Regions from separate parts of the Homo sapiens genome. Here region 1 is linked to region 2. Evidence: fine-mapped expression QTL. Tissue or cell type: whole blood. Region 2 holds a variant in brackets; the other region holds the start of a gene. All regions are shown on one strand. Distances are from middle to middle.

Evidence for each region. PIP is the estimated chance that this variant, and not a neighbour inherited with it, causes the effect.
Region 1: MARCO starts here. The variant in region 2 is fine-mapped to the expression of MARCO in whole blood (INTERVAL, PIP above 0.99).

What each region holds. Positions count from the first base shown.
Region 1 is chr2:118,940,817-118,943,501 of GRCh38, reverse strand. It overlaps MARCO (macrophage receptor with collagenous structure), which reads right to left and starts at 1,308. Exons shown (of 17, transcript NM_006770.4): 1 at 1,105-1,308. The coding sequence starts at 1,201.
Region 2 is chr2:119,030,491-119,033,175 of GRCh38, reverse strand. No RefSeq gene overlaps it. Among named protein-coding and RNA genes, the nearest start is that of MARCO, 90 kb to the right of the region's middle. The variant G/A (reference allele first, on the strand shown) is at 1,498.

The DNA of each region.
Region 1 (2,685 bases), 90 kb after region 2:
AGAGGCCAGAGGCTATGTTTATTCAAGCCTGTTTCCTCAGTGCTGAGTGCAGTGCCCTGCTGGAAATAGGTGCTGAGTATGCTTGATCAGCTGACTTTGCTTGAACATCTTCAGTCTCTTAAACAGTCATGTATCCAGAATGTTGCATTCTGAGAAGTTCTAAATAGCCAATGATTATTATAGCCATTAGCACTCACACCTTTCTCTGTTATTACACTGTAAATTCCTAGAGGCAGAGCCCCAGACGCTTCATCTTTGTGCGCTGAAAATTCCAGGCAGGGACCTGGGCAGACAGGTGTGGGATGAGAAGGACACTCTGGCCAGGAGATAAAGCCACCAATTTTCCTGCATAGACAACTTCCAGCAAAGCCTGGGAGTGGAAATGACTGATCAACTTGGAAGATGATCCCAAGAGAACGTTCTAGACTAGGAAATCAGAGCTCATTTGTGGAATGCAAGCCCACCCATGACTTCAAATGCTACAAATTCTAGAAGATTTTAAAAATGCATCACCTGTTGAATGCTGAGTGAGAAAATAAAGACAACAGAGTTGACTGAATATTACAGACCTGAGTTTAACCTAAGACAAACTAATTATGAAGCTATGAACATATTTCAGTCAACATGAAATACAGAATATGTTTCCTGACCAGCACATCAGTTATAACAGAAATCCCCTTAAAGAATTTTAAAGAAGCTGTGTTTTGAAAACTGTCATGCTTGGCTTCAGTTTTGTGGTCCCCTTTCAGTGCCCCTGTTTTGCGTTTTCATTGTATCACCCAACCTGTGTGTCAGAATAAGACATTCATTAAAAAAAGGGGACATTTAATAAGCATTGGCATTTTTTCAAGGGAAAATATTTAAATATGATTAAAACAATAGTGAAGCTAAGAAAAACCTGACTATATGCTAAAAATACAGCATCTATTATTAGCATTCCAGAAATTCCAAATTGAAGCACTCCAGACAGTATTAGTGATGATTACGTGCAAAATGCAGCAATAAGCCAAACCTAGACTTTCTATTGACTTGTCTATTTTCGTATCTCGCTAGCAGAAAGACTACATTTCTGGTCATTTCCATTATTGGGGAATCGTACTTTACCATTGATTTCGAAAGGCTCCATTGCAATTTGGTGAAAAGCAGCTTGTTGGGTCTCACTCAAGAGCTCGTCCTCCTTGAGAATTTTCTTATTTCTCATTGCCAAGCTTTATAGATGGCCAAAGTCCTGGAGCCAGCAGAAATGCTCCCCTCAAGAGGAACCACTTGGAGAAAGATCCTTCCCATCGAACCACTGCAGCTGGTTGTAAACCTCGCAGCACTTCCCTTTGGCTCTGATTTCAGAATTTGCAGGATGTTTCCTGACATGATCAGGATTGGACATTTCTCAAACACGGGCTATTCACATGTGGATCTCCCACACAGTGCTGCTGCTTGTTAAGGGGGATCGAGGAGGCTTTGGGACACAAGTTACGGGCCTCTGAATGCACCCGTCACTCCCAGGTCCCTGAGACCCAAAAGCTGGATGGCTCCAGAGAGGGCCAACCAAGCCCTGCCATGGGCCCAGACTCAGCTCTCTGTCCCAGGACCTCTCCAGCCCACAGTGAAATCTCCCTTCTCTGACCTGCCTCAACCTTTAGAGTTCATCCTTGCTGCTCAAAGTGTGGTCCATGGACCAGCAGTATTAGTATCACCTGAGAACTTGTTAGAAATGCAAGTTCACTTGTTCTAACAATGAGTCTCTGGTCCCACCCCATCAGATCAAATCCAAATCTACAGTTTAACTAGATCCCCAGGTGATTTATATACACATTACAGTTTGAGAAGCCTTGCTCTGAACCACACATTTTAGCACTTAGTATTTCTTCTTGTAGTTTTCCCATGTTCTCTCTCTGTGTGTGTACACATGTGTGCACATGTGTACATGTGTTACAGGTGTCCTTGTCCAGGCCCCAGTGAGATCTGAGCTCCTTAAGGAAAGTAGCTTCTCCCCTCTCTCCCTCCCGTCAGGCATCTCTACCAGGGATGCTGTATAGCATGGTGGTTAAGACACAGACACTAAGAGCTAGAATGCCTGGCTTCAAATTCCACCTCTTCCACATAGGGGCTGTCTGGCAGTAGGCAAATCACTTGAGCTTTGAGCATCTCACTCTTCTGTTTGTATAAATAAGGAAGATATGAATTTCGTGAGCCTTAAATGAATTAAATCATATAAGGTGGCTAGGATGGAAGTATTAGGTAATAAACACTATGGTCATGTTGTTGTTATTATCATTAGAGACATTGTGAGCCTGCTGGGCACCGAGGAGATGAAGAAATGGCCTTTTTTCATGAAAGATATTCACAGTCTACCATGCAAGATGGTTGCGGCTACAACTACATTCCAGAAAATTGCTGTGAAGTGCGGCAAAGGTTGATGTCCCTGAAAAGACAGAAGTGCCGGGAGGCAGGGGAGACAGGGCAGAAATATGACAAATAGCTTTATCATCTGAATCAAGAGATATCAGATACCAGAGCTGGGCTTAAAAGGATAATGGGGGATTGATCCAGATCAAGATGAGGCAAAGGCCCTCCAGGGAGGAAGGAGGGCAGGTGCAGCCTCTCAGAGGTGGGACAGCCTGGAGCAGGGGAGCCGTAGACTTTTGGCCTATTTGAAATGTAAGAGGTGAGGAAGACAGGTGGCAG
Region 2 (2,685 bases):
ACCATTTATTAAATAGAGAATCCTTTCCCCATTTCTTGTTTTTGTCAGGTTTGTCAAAGATCAGATGGTTTTAGTTGTGTGGTGTTATTTCTGAGGGCTCTGTTCTGTTCCATTGGTCTTTGTCTCTGTTTTGGTACTTGTCCCTGTTTGCAGATGACATGATTTTATATCTAGAAAACCCCATCGTCTCAGCCCAAAATCTCCTTAAGCTGATAGGCAACTTCAGCAAATTCTCAGGATACAAAATCAATGTGCAAAAATCACAAGCATTCTTATACATCAATAACATACAAACAGAGAGCCAAATCATGAGTGAACTCCCATTCACAATTGCTTCAAAGAGAATAAAATGCCTAGGAATCCAACTTACAAGGGATGTGAAGGACCTCTTCAAGGAGAACTACAAACCACTGCTCAAGGAAATAAAAGAGGATACAAACAAATGGAAGAACATTCCATGCTCATGGGTAGGAAGAATCAATATCATGAAAATGGCCATACTGCCCAAGGTAATTTACAGATTCAATGCCATTGCCATCAAGCTACCAATGACTTTCTTCACAGAATTGGGAAAAACTACTTTAAAGTTCATACAGAACCAAAAAGGAGCCTGTATTGCCAAGTCAATCCTAAGCCAAAAGACCAAAGCTGGAGGCATCACACTACCTGACTTCAAACTATACTGTAAAGGCTACAGTAACCAAAACAGCATGGTACTGGTACTATTCTTATATTTCTAAAAGCTTTAGCTTCATATGTTTAGCTTATATGTTGTTTTGTACATACGGTTTTTGAAATATTTTCATAAATTTTACAATTTGTTGTTATGCGTCACTTTTTTAATCCTGTTTAGTATATAATCTTGAATTCTATCTTATTTAATATTAAATATTGCCAATCTTGCTTTTTATTTGTTTGCAATTTGCCTGGTATTCCTCCTTTTATCCCTATAATTTGAATCCGTTGTCACCAATTTAAGTGTATCTATACCCTTAAGGGTATAAATGTTGTAGGTTTTTTCTTTTCTTTTTTCTTTTTTTGAAACACGGTCTCACTTTCTTACCCAAGTTGGAGTGCAATGAAACTGCATCATAGCTCACTGCAGCCTCAAACTCCTGGACTCAAGTGATCTTCCTGCCTCAGCATCCTGAGTAGCTGGGGATAAAGGTGTGTGCCACCGCACTCAGCTATTTATTTTATTTTTGTAGAGATGGGGTCTCACTGTGTTACCCAGGCTGGTTTTGTAGGTCTGGCTACAAGGAATGTTCCCACCTCAGCCTCCCAAAATGCTGATTACAAGCGTGAACCACTATGTTCAGCCTGCTTTTGGTTTTTAACCCTCTCTGAATAAGCTGTATCTTTTGACGAGATGATTCAGTTTGTTCACATATTTAATAATTTATATGTTTAATAATGTACTTGCCTGTCTTTTCTGTTTCCTATTGTTTTATATTTGTACTTTATTTTAAATTGCTTTTTTCCCCTTATTTCCCATTG[G/A]TTTGGTCAAATTGTTACTCATCTTTTAATGTGTAGTGTCTAGCAAAACTGTTAAATTTTATTAATGGTTTCTATTTCCTTGTACTCATAATCAAACATATAGTTCTCTATTGTTCTTTGAAACAAGATACCAACTATTTCACCAGGTATGACATTGCCACAGCTTTCTCCCCTTCCTCCCCGCATGGGATGAGACCACTAGAACACCTTCCTCTGTTATCCTCCCCTTCATCCCTCCTTCTCTCAGTCCTGAGATGGACATTTGGAATGTCTCTAACCTCCTTCCCCTCCCACTGCCCCTGCTGAAATAGTGTTGCTGAAATTGTTTCGTGCTATTAGTTTTAGGCTATTGTAAGAATTTCCCTTGAAATATCTCCCTTCAATTTCCAGATTATTTAAGATTAATATTTCACATTTCCAGAGAATTCATTCTTCTCCATTCAGAATTTTTCTCCTGTTACTGAATTATTATCTTTTTGCTATATAGCCCCTTTTTTTCCTTCTGAAGCCACAATACTTGAATGTTAGGTTCATGCATCCATTCCCCAACTCTTGCTTTTGTCTTCATCATTTTCATCGTCTTATAGTTTTGCTCTGTGTGTTGGCATATATTACTTCCATTTGACTCAATTCAGGTCTCAACAGTAGCCACATTTTTCTTTCCTTCACTTGTTATGCTGTGTAGTTGGGAAATCCACATTTTAGCTTTTGAAAGCCTTTTTGGGTGTGTCCTGCTCTTGATTACCAATAAGTGCTCTGTTTTTCTGTTCAGTCTCAGAGATAAGTATTTGAAAGCAGACACAGCCACAGATACAAGAGAAATTAAAATACTTACAAGAGAAGAGTATATGTAACTTTTGGCAATAATTTTAAAATCTAGAAGAAATGGATGATTTTCCAGCAAATAAAAGTTTCCGCAATTGACTTCAGAAGAAGTGGAACGCTTCAAAAGACCTATTATGACAGAAGAGAGAGAAAGTAAACTACCTTTTAATCAACAACCAGGGCCCAGTGATATCACAGCTGAATTGTGTTGGACATTGAAAGATTAAGAGAGCAGCCTTCTGTGGCTCGGTGTGCACTTTGATAGGTCATCCTCAGTCTGGACACCTTGAGCGTTGTTGCAGGTGGGATCCCCAGGAAGGAGAGCAAGTGGGAGAGTGTCCTGCACAGGACACTCCCTACATC